Linked DNA regions of Homo sapiens: region 2 is linked to region 1. The links come from fine-mapping of genetic effects on gene expression. Tissue or cell type: whole blood. Region 1 holds a variant in brackets; the other region holds the start of a gene. All regions are shown on one strand. Distances are between the middles of the regions.

Evidence for each region. PIP is the estimated chance that this variant, and not a neighbour inherited with it, causes the effect.
Region 2: it holds the start of RNF187, and the variant in region 1 is fine-mapped to the expression of RNF187 in whole blood (INTERVAL, PIP above 0.99).

Annotation. Positions count from the first base shown.
Region 1 is chr1:228,669,268-228,675,158 of GRCh38, reverse strand. It overlaps a transcript of RHOU not described here. Among named protein-coding and RNA genes, the nearest start is that of RHOU, 63 kb to the left of the region's middle. The variant G/A (reference allele first, on the strand shown) is at 2,755.
Region 2 is chr1:228,483,649-228,489,539 of GRCh38, reverse strand. RNF187 (ring finger protein 187) reads right to left here and starts at 2,158. Exons shown (of 4, transcript NM_001010858.3): 1 at 1,662-2,158; 2 at 488-580. The coding sequence starts at 2,051. RefSeq lists enhancers at 1-711, 712-1,440, 1,558-2,418, 2,720-3,099, 2,419-3,280 and silencers at 1,520-1,719, 1,980-2,099.

The sequences.
Region 1 (5,891 bases):
TTCATATCAATAAGGAGGAAAATGAAACTTGAACCCTACTTAAATCACATGCAAGCATATCAATCCTTGTGAACTGCAGATCTAAGTTTGAAAAGTAAAACAATAAAGGTTCTTAGAATATAATATAGGAGGCCAGGCACGGTGGCTCACGCCTGTAATCCCAGCACTTTGGGAGGCCAAGACGGGCGGATCACGAGGTCAGGAGATTGAGACCATCCTGGCTAACACGGTGAAATCCCGTCTTTACTAAAATACAAAAAATTAGCCGGGCATGGTGGCAGGCGCCTGTAGTCCCAGCTACTTGGGAGGCTGAGACAGGAGAACGGCGTGAACCCGAGAGGCGGAGCTTGCAGTGAGCCGAGGTCGCGCCACTGCACTCCAGCCTGGGCGACAGAGCGAGACTCTGTCTTAAAAATAAAAAAAAATTTAAAAAAAAGAATATAATATACAAGTATACAGTCATGACCTTGTGGTAGGAAATCATTTATTAGCGGGTACAAAAGGTACTAAACAGCTGGGGTGCGGTGGCTCATGCCTGTAATCCCAGCACTTTGGGGGGCCGAGGGAAGCAGATCACTGGAGGTCAGGAGTTTGAGACCAGCCTGGACAACATGGTGAAACTCCGTTTCTACTAAAAAGCAAAAATTAGCTGGGTGTGGTGGCAGGCACCTGTAATCCCAGCTACTCAGGAGGCTGAGGCTGGAGAATCGCTTGAACCTGGGAGGCAGAGGTTGCAGTGAGCCGAAATTGCACCACTGCGCTCCAGCCTGGGTGACAATAGTGAAACTCCCTCTCAAAAAAAAAAAAAAAAAGGTACTAAACACTAAGGAAAAGATGTGTATATTAGACTAAATTAAAATCAGGAACCTCAAACGATTGCATTAAGAGAACTAAATGACAAGAGAATGTGTTTGCAGTATATATTTGACAAAGGAAGACTTAATAAGAAAAGACAAATAGAAAAATGGCCAAGATATATAACTTCACAAAAGAGGATATTCAAATGGCCAATGCATGCATGAAAAGGAACTCAATATCAATTGTTATCAAATTAATGCAAGTTAAAACCACAACACTTCCACTATAGTTCCACCAGAGTAACTAAAATGCAAAAGCCAGTGTTGGCAAGAATGCGGAAAAACTAAAACTGTCATGATGGGAAGCGTAAATTGGTACAATCACTTTTGACAAATTCTTTGGAAGGATCTACTAAAGTAGAGCATGCACATTTCCTATGACCCAGCAACTGTAGCACTAGATACGCTCAATAGAAATGTATTCACATGTGCTCCAAAAGACATATGCTATTTAGAATAACCTAAAGCTGTAAACACCCTGTATTAGTCTGTTCTTGCACTGCTATAAAGAACTACCTGAGACTAGGTAATTTATAAAGAAAATAAGTCTATTTGGCTCACAATTGTGCATGCTATACAGGAAGCATGACTGAGAAGGCCTCAGGAAACTTACATTATGGCGGAAGGTGAAAAGGAAGGAGGCATGTCTTACATGCCCAGAGCAGGAGGAAGAGAGTGAAGGGGAAGGTGCTACACACTTTTAAACAACCAGCTCTCTTGAAAACTCTCTCATGATCACAAGAACAGCAGGGAGGAAATCCGTCCCCATGAGCCAATCACTTCCCACCAGGTCCCTCCTCCGATACTGGGGATTACAATTTAACATGAGATTTGAGCAGGGACACCAATTCAAACCATATCACACCCCTAATGTCCCTCATAGTGGATGGATAAATTAATTGGGGTATATTCAAGCAGCTATGAAAATAAACCAACTTACAACTGCAAAAACATGAATGAATCTCACCAAAATAATGTTGAGCTAAAGAAAACTATCACAAAGAATGCATGCTGTGATTCCATTTTACAAAGATCAAGAACAAGCAAAACTAATGTGTGGTTTAAGGAGTTAGATTAGTGGTGTCCCGTGAAGAAAAGATTAGGAAAAGTGATCAGATGGGGCTTCTGGGATACTAAGAATGTTCTATTTCTTGATCTGAGTGATGAGTACAAGTGTGTATGTTTGCCAGTTTGCCAGGTTCTATGCTTAAAACATTTGCATTTGGGGCACGTATATTTCAATATGAATTTTTTTAATCAAGTAAAAATAAAATTGGAAGTTGAGACTACCCTAGCCATTTAGGGTTACTTGTGCCACTAGACAAGAAGTAAAGAATAAGCTGTGGCAGTTCATCCCAATTACAGGTGGAAATCGGGCTGCTGCTACCTGCAGGGAGTAAGAAGTAATCTGCCTGAAACCCAGCCAATTCATTGACTTTGTCTCAGTACTCTCTTGCTGGGTAATACTAGGCAGTGGGAAACCGTAGTAACACAGTAAGACAAAACCACTGAAAAAGGCTTGGATGCTATGGCAACGCAAGTTTGGATCATACCCCCGGAGAAAAACTCAAACTTCCTGAGGTGATGGCAAAGGTGATTTATGAAAATAGTGTATCCAGGTAGTTTAAACTAATTTCTCCACTCCCCACTACTGCAGTATTAAACTTGGGCATGTGCATCATCATCTTTGAGGGAATACATCTCATTCTCACATTTTTATCAGTAGTTTTTGACTTAACTGGAAAGATCAAGCTGACCCACCTAAATTCCGACTTCAAATTTAAGTTACAAAGGTTTAACTTTGTGCTATTAAAATTTTCTTTTAAAATATGAAAATGCGGCTGGGCACAGTGGCTCGTGCCTGTAATCCCAGCACTTTGGGAGGCCGAAGCAGGTG[G/A]ACCATCTGAGGTCAGAAGTTCGAGACCAGCCTGGCAAACATGTTGAAACAACAATTCTACTAAAAATACAAAAAATCAGCTGTGTCTGGTGGCGGGCACCTGTAATCCCAGCTACTCCAGAGGTGGGAGAATTGCTTGAACCCGGGAGGCAGAGGTTGCAGTGAGCTGAGGTTGCACCATTGCACTCCAGCCTGGGCAACAAGAGCAAAACTCCATCTCAAAAACATGTATGTGTGTATATATATGAAAATGCAATTATATCAAAATGAAGGCCCTAGATTTTTTGCTCTGTTTTCTAGAAGAATGTTTGGCATATATGTAAGCACAATCATTTCCATTCACTTAAGTTTCAGGAACTCTTTTGATTTGTGTGCATGTGCACCAGTGTGCACACTTACATAAACATGGCTGACTCCTACATGATAGTTTTCTCTTTGGTGTATACATTTATTCAAAAGAATGTACAAGAACAGAACTCAGTTATATAACTAGATAAATGTATAATCACAAGATCTATATTATTTTGAAAAATGGCAATAAATTCATATAAAGTCACTAAGACTATACCTGGTACAAATATGGATTTGATGACCACTTAGTGTCCACTGGTTAGAAATCACGGTGTTAAAGTTGAAAATATTTCCATCAATCCTTTTCACTTAGTTCTCTTTTTTTTTTTTTTTTTTTTTTTGAGATGGAGTCTTGCTCTGTCACCCAGGCTGGAGTGCAGTGGCCCTCAGCTCACTGCAACCTCCGCCTCCTAGGTTCAAGTGATTCTCCTGCCTCAGCCTCATGAGTAGCTGGGATTTCAGGCACCCACCACCATGCTGGGCTAATTTTTGTACTTTTAGTAGAGACGGGGTTTCACCACATTGGCCAGGCTGATCTCAAACTCCTGACCTAACGTAATCCACTTGCCTCGGCCTCCCAAAGTGCTTGGATTACAGGCATGACCCACCACCCCCGGCCGATTGTCATATTTTTAAATTCACATTTTCCATATTTAAAAATAATAAAAATTACCACCTTATTTCTTAAGAAATAGACCATAAGACATCTGTATTAGTCTGTTTTCACATTGCTATAAAGAATTACTTGAGGCTAGGCATGGTGGCTCACACCTGTAATCCTAGAACTTTGGGAGGTCAAGGCGAGTGGATCACCTGAGGTCAGGAGTTTGAGACCAGCCTTGCCAACATGGCGAAAACCTGTCTCTACTAAAAATACAAAAATTAGCTGGGCATGATGATGCATGCCTGTAATCCCAGCTACTCAGGAGGCTGAGGAAGGAGAATCACTTGAACCCGGGAGGTGGAGGTTGCAGTGAGCCAAGATCACGCCACTGCACTCCAGCCTGCACAACAGGAGTGAGACTACATCTGAAAAAACAACAACAACAACTTAAGACTGGGTAATTTATGAAGAAAAGAGGTTTAATCAACTCACAGTTCTGTAGGCTGTACAGGAGACATGGCTAGGGAGGCCTCAGGAAACTTACAATCATGGCAGAAGGTGAAGAGGAAGCAAGCATTTCTTCCCACAGTGGAGCAACAGACAGAGAGTAAAGGGGGCAGTACCACACACTTTTTAAACCACCAGAGCTTGTGAGAACTCACTCACTATCATGAGAACGGCAAGGGAGAAGTCCGCCCCCATGATCCAGTCACCTCCCACCAGGCCTCTGCTCCAACACTGAGAATCACAACTCGACATGAGATTTGAGTGGGGACACAGACCCAAACAATATCAACATCTATGCTGGGAATGAGGAAGTAGGAAGATCTCATCCAAGTAAGTCATCATAGAACGTTCCAGAAGAATGTAGAACTGGTCTGTTAAGTGGCTACTCTTCTTATGCTTTTTAGGTTGGCTTTTCCTAACACTTGACCCATCCTAAAGGAGAGACCTTGAGAGGTAAGAGATGGTGTTCACTCTTCAGTTTTATTTTCCATTGGGACATTCTCATCATTTGTTGGAAGGACTGATTTACATTTTGCTGAATTCCTCCAGTTGATGTTTCTGTTCTCCTTAATTATTAGTGCTCTGGGCAACTGCCCAGCTAGCGAAGAGGCCCCTAATCTAGCTCTGCTGAGGAAAGGGGGTGGCCTTAATGATTATCTGGGCTGGGCCACATTTTTGACAAGGATCTGTTCTCAGGTTTTAACTGACATTTAAGTTAAAATAAATGGATCTGTTCTCACTTCTTCAGAGAGGTCTTTCCTGACCCCCAACCCCATCTAAATCAGCCCCACAAGATTCTAATTCATCCTCTTTACTGCTCTTACCAGTACTGCCGTTAACTTACCTACTTACTATTCTGCATGAGATTCTTAGTAGCAGCAACTTTATTTATCCCATTGCCAAGAGCAAGGCCAGGCCCACCATAAGGGCTTGATGTTTAACCCACTTGACTGGCTACTGTGTATGAGCCTGGAGGTTTTCAAAAGCAACTAGTTATCTGAACTTCATGTTTATATTCTTGTGGTCGTTCTTTAATCACTATCTCAGCACCCTTATGATTTTCAGTTTGAAGTGCACCAAAGAACAAACTGCATCCTTTAAGCATCACTATGACTTTGAGAGAATTCTGGGCAGAAATGCACTTCACAATGAAGTAGCTAAAATGATATTAATTTTTAGGAAATTATACTCTTCTCCATACTAAACGGTCATGCCATTATTATCAGGTTCAGAAAAAGTACCCGTAAGGTAGACATGACACACCATAGGTCTAAGAATTAGGAGACTACATCTAAGTTAAAATTTTACTCAAGCAAGTTAAGGCCTTTTAGTTCTATTCCAATAACATTTCATAAGTTCTTAACCAGCGACATGGCTTAATAAAAGCTCATGGATTACCTCAGTCCTTCAGTTATAGCCTGCAGAAAAAACATTCTTAGGTTTAGCTGTGCTGGCTCTCAGAAGAAAAAATTAGGAGGTGAGAGCTTTTATTTTCCAAGTTAAACATTCCATCCAAAAAAGCACAGAGGCTGTAATGCAAGAAACATGAACCACCAAGACTGTGTTGCTGGCCCAGGCTCAGCATCACCCAGGCAATGCCTGAGGCCTGGAGGAAGCTGAGAAGTGATGACTAGTGGAGGGAGGAAGCAGCTTGTCCAACTCCTGTGATGAAACC
Region 2 (5,891 bases), 190 kb after region 1:
CCGCTTAAGGTCAGGAGTTTGAGACCAGCCTGGGCAACACAGCAAGACCCCCACCTCTAGAAAAGCATTTTAAAATTAACCAGGTGTGGTAGCACGTGCCTATAGTCCCAGAGGCTGAGGTGGGAGGATCGCCTGAGGCCAGTTCGAGCTGCAGTGAGCTACAATCATGCCATTGCACTTCAGCCTGGGTAATGAAGTGAGACTCTGTCTCTTGGGAAAAAAAAAAGAAGTCTGATGCTGCCATCACCTACAGGTAAAATGTGAGGAGAAAAAGAGGCTTCCACTGGCTTTGGCTAGATTCTATTTGAGAAATACAAACACATCCTAAAAAAAATACCCTGAAGCTCACTTAAGTCCAGAGGCCCCTCCTCCAACCAACCAGCTGAGCAGTTCAGAGGCCTGGCCCACTTGGCCTGGTGGTCCCTTTGTCTAGAGCCCTGAGCCCACAGTCCCCTCATTCCAGGCTGCCCCAGGTCCCCCCACTTGCCTTCCACACTGCAGCTGCTGACTCTGCCTGGCCATGCAGGTCCCGGGCGTCATTCAAGTCCTTTCTCATGATTTCCACAGACCCCTTGTTCTCCTGTAAAGAAAAGAAGGTCACCAGGGGTGGGCAGAAGCTCTGGGTCCCCCAACCCAGCCCAGTACTGAGGGACATCACCCCAGCTGACTGCACACAGTCTGACCATCCCAGAGATAACCTCGAAGCCCGGTTGTCTAGGGCAGGAACGCACAGGCAGTCAAAAGGTTTCTTGGGCTTCACACCTATTCAGAAGGATCTGGGTGCTGGGGCTAAGGGGACTGTCTAGGTGGGTTTAGGAGTTCTGTGTCTGTAAGTGGCCCTGTTCAGTGTGAGTTCGGCCTGTACCAAAGGTCTGCACAGCCTGCCCTACACCCTGCCCTGCCTGAGCCGGATGGGGGTCGCTCTGCCCGGTGGCAGGACCCCCAATGCAGGAGGAGCACCCAGGGACACAGTCTGGCTGGCTTCCCCTCCCCTGTATTGAAGAGCAGGACCCCAGGCTGGCTGTTGTCTCCTATTCTGTGTCCCACAACCAACCCGCCATGGGCAAGGCTCCAGACTCCCGGACCCGCTGCTGCCAGACTCTCAGAGCGGGTTTCTGAAAGATGGGAGAGGGGACAGGGGGTGCAGGCGAGGGCTGGGTGGCCCGGGGAGCAGACGAGAAGGTGGGCCAGGCCTGTGGACACAGTGGAATACAGAGGGGCAAGAGGCGTGATGTCTCCCCCAAGGGAAGAGTGAGTGGAGGAGTCAATCTGTAGGAACTAGAGGGGGTCTATGAGGGCGAGACAGGGCACAGCTAGTGATGGGACCACAAAGATGGGCGCTGGTGGGGGAAGGACTTCGTAGAAGGTAGGGGGTGGGGAGATAAGGCACCGCCCAGCAGGGGACACCAAGACGGGGAAGGGGACCAGACTCCGAAGAGACGCAGGAAATATGGGGAGGCAAGCCGCAGGAGGGAGGGGCCCAGCACACGCTGGAGAGGGGACCCGTGGCGGTGAGGGGAGGGGGACAATCCGGGGACGGGGACAATCCGGGGACAGGAACAGTGGAGACGGGAAGGGCCCAGGGCTCAGGGGGACCGGGGCGGGGGCGGAGAGGCGCAGGGCACCGTCCGGGGTGGGGCACGGGACCCCGCGGCGCGCACCTTGCCGCGCAGCGCCTTCCTCCAGCGCGGTTCCCACTCGGGCGGCTCGGGGCCCGCAGCCATACGGCAGGCGGCGCAGAGCGGGCCGGCGTCGGCGCGGCACAGCAGCTGCAGCGCGGCCTCGCTGGCCGGGCCGTCGCGCGCGGGCGCCGCGGCCGCCTCCTCGAGCGCCAGAAGGCGGCGGCTGAGCGGGGGCCTGCCGGGCTCCACGGCGCGCTGCCAGCAGTCGTCGGCGCACTCGGGGCACGGGAAGGGCCCGTCCTCCTCGGCCCAGAAGCGCACCACGCACGCCCGACAGAAGCGGTGGCCGCAGTCGGCGCGCACCGGTTCCCGGGGCGCGCGCTGGCACAGGGCGCAGGCGGCCTCGGCGGGGCCCGCAGGGAGCGCCAGGGCTGCGGGCGGCGGGGCCGGCAAGGGCGCAGGAGCGGCTGGGGAGGGCCGGAGACCTAGACGGCCGGCGACCGGACGGAGACCAGCAACAGGACGAAGACGCCAACGCCGGGGACGCGCACGGGGCGGGGTCGGGGACGCGCACGGGGCGGGGTCCGGACCGCGGAGCGCTCTGCCGATAAGATCCTGGCAGCGGTGTGCTGCAGCCGGAGGTCCTGGCCGCGCTGCGCTCCACAGACAAGATCCTGGCAGCAGTGTACTGCATCCTTAGGTCCTGGCCGCGGTGGGCTTCTCCGCCTGGATCCTAGCGGCGGTGCGCTCCTCCGCCTTGATTTTGGCAACTATGCTCTCCACCTGCAAGGTCCTGGCAGCGGCGCACGTCACCGCGCAAGTCCTGGCAGCTGCGCGCTTCACTCTACTGCCTGCGGACCGGCCCAAGTCGTATCCTGAAATCTTACTGGGCTGTCCCTTCCTACTTCAGTAACTCCTGCGAAAGAGGGAAACAAAGTTTTATTTTTACTTGAAGGTTCCATTTTTAAAAGGTTGTTTTTGTAAGCTGCTAGGATCTGAGCTGCGCGTACCCCCGCGGTAGCTCGCCCGCGTGGGCTGGGGACGGGGCGGGAAATGGCCTGCGTGGGCCTCCTCCGCTGCTCTCATCCTGCACGGACCCGCCCTGCATGGGCACGCCCTGCGTGCACGGGCCTGCCCGCGTGGACGTGCCCTGCGTGCACCCTTCCTTCAGGGACCCGCCCTTGAACGGCCCTCCGGACGTGGACACTCGTATACGCCCACCCTGCGTGGGATCTCCCTGCGTGGACCCATCCCGCTGAGCCTCTTCTCGCGCAGCCTCCCTCTGGCCCCCTGGGAAGCTACCCTGGTTGTCCGCTGTCTCCTGGCTGGGGGGAGCTCTCATTGATTCTGTGATGATGCATGACAGAAGAGCATTTGTTAGCTTTGCTTTGCTTTTCTTTCTTTTTTGAGACAGCCTCGCTCTGTTGCCAGGCAGGCTTGAGTGCAGTGGCGCGATCTCGGCTCACTGCAACCTCCGCGTCCCGGGTTCAAGCGATTCTCCTGCCTCAGCCCCCCGAGTAGCCGGTATTGCAGGCGCCTGCCACGACGCCCGGCTAATTTTTGTATTTTTAGTACAGACGGGGTTTCACCATGTTGGCCAGGCTGGCCTCGAACTCCTGACCTCGTAATCCACCCGCCTCTGCCTCCCAAAGTGCTGGGATTACAGGCGTGAGCCACTACACCCGGCCGTTAGCTTTTCTTTAAAAAATAAATTTAAAGGAAAGAAATAAGCCTTTGGGAAGAGCAATCTTGTGTTTTTGTTTTTTAATTATTTTGAAAACAAGCAAGCATGGTTAAAATAAGATTGTGCAAGTTTTGCATTTTAAAAAATTAATCTGGGCCGGGCGCCGTGGCTCACGTCTCTAATCCCAGCACTTTGCGAGGCCGAGGCGAGCGGATCACAAGGTCAAGATATGAGACCATCCTGGCTCATGGTGAAACCCCGTCTCTACTAAAAATACACAAATTAGCCGGGCGTGGTGGCGCATGCCTGTAATCCCAGCTACTCAGGAGGCTGAGGCAGGAGAATCACTTGAACCAGGGAGTCGGAGGTTGCGGTGAGCCAAGATCGTGCCACTGCACTCTAGCCTGGCGACAGAGCGAGACTCTGTCTTAAAAAACAAAAACAAAAAAAAATTTTTATAAATCTGTATTCCAAGCAAGCGCAGGATCTAATGAGGTATTTTTGTCTTTGTGAAGATTTTTTAAATCGACTTGGAAATGCACTAGATGCCCGTGGGAAACATGAATAGTAAACCGAGGTTATTTCTGTGTAGTAAAGATTAGAGGCTTCCAGCCGAGCCTTGCTGATATTGTTGAGTCAACTAGGAACTTGCTGGAGAGAAAAGTAAAAAATATAAAAAATGAGCAAACTTCATAATGAACTAATCTTGTGAATGAGAAAATATCAAAAATTATAATTAAAGGCAAATAGCCAAATTAGGAACATTGTAACCACAAATATACAAAGAGTTTATAAAATTAGGTAAGGAAAAGCATGATGGAAAATACACCTTGTCATGGGATTTTTCAAATCACAAAAAAAAAAGCACACAAATGATTGAACACACATGAGAAAAAAATGTACACTCTGCCCAGTTAAGAAAGAGGAAAATAAAACGAGACTCTCTTTCTTTCCACTATTAAGTAAGCAGACCAAACAAAAAAAAGGAAACTTGGCCGGGAGCCGTGGCTCAGGCCTGTAAACACAGCACTTTGGGAGGCCGAGGCGGGTGAATCATCTGAGGTCAGGAGTTCAAGACCAGCCTGGCCAACATAGTGAAACCCTATCTCTACTAAAAATACAAAAATTAGGCTGGATGTGGTGGCACACGCCTGTAATCCCAGCACTTTGGGAGGCTGAGGCAGGTGGATCACAAGATCAAGAGATCGAGACCATCCTGGCCAACATGGTGAAACCCCGTCTCTACTAAAAATACAAAAATTAGTTGGGCATGGTGGTGCACGCCTGTGGTCCCAGCTACTTGAGAGGCTGAGGCAGGAGAATAGCTGGAACCGGGAGACGAAGGTTGCAGTGAGCCGAGATCATGCCACTACACTCCAACCTGGCGACAGAGCAAGACTCCCTCAGTTTCAAAAAAAAAAAAAAAATACAAAAATTAGCCAGGCATGGTGGCACGTGCCTGTAATCCCAGCTATTTGGGTGGCTGAGGCAGGAGAATCGCTTGAACCTGGGCGGTGGAGGTTGCAGTGAGCCGAGATCACACCACTGCACTCCAGCCTGGGCAACAGAGTGAAACTCCATTTCAAAAAAACAAAAAACAGAAAACAAACAAACAAAAAAAACACTTGATTCTGTGAATACTGCTTCTTGTAATCCACGTAGCAGTATCGATTAAGGATTTTCTGATTGGAATTCCTTTTCTTAGAAAACAAACTATAAAAATAACAGGAAATGAAAATAATAAAAATTGGGTTGTAAAAAATTGGGCTGTTTTGTTTTGTTTAGAAATGTGGCTGGGAGAGGTGGCTCATGCCTGTTAATCCCAGCACTTTGGGAGGCTGAGGTGAGTGGATAGCTTGAGCCCAGTAGTTCAACACCAGCCTGGGGAACATGGCAAGAACCTGTCTGTACAGAAAATTTTTAAAATTTAGCTGGGCGTGGTGGCACGCACCTGTGGACCCAACTACTTGGGAGGCTGAGGTGGGAGGATCACCCGAGCACAGGAGATTGAGCCTGTAGTGAGCCGTGATCATGCCACTGCACTCCAGCCTGGGAAATGAGAGAATTTTTTAAGACCTTGTCTTAAAAAAAAGAAAGAGAGAGAGAGAGAGAGAGAGAGGTGGGGGCGGGGGGTGGGGGAGAGAAGGAAGGAGTGGAGGGAGAGAGGAAGGAAGGAAGAAAGGGAAAAGAAAAAGAAGAAAGGAAGGAAAGAAAGAAAAGGAAGGAAGGAAGGAGAAAAAGAAGGAAGGAAAGAAAGAGAGAAAGGAAGGGAGGGAGGGAGGAAGGGAGAGGAAGAAAGAGAAGAAAGAAAGAGAAATGTATGTCATATCACTATTCATTTTGGAGAAAAAAAAAAAAACCTTGAAGGTCCAATACTAGGGGCATGGCTTAGCAAATGGTAGCAGCCATGAACTTGCACATGTGTGCATTAGAGACTTTTGGAAGTATACACTGGCAAAGATTGTTGCCTGAAAGCCTCTCTCCCTTACCACCAGCAGAATCCACATTGTGTGGTGCCAGCATCCCCACTTCCCAAGACAGGGTGGCTGGTGTAGGTGCCAAGGGGAACCCTTGGTCCTCTCAAA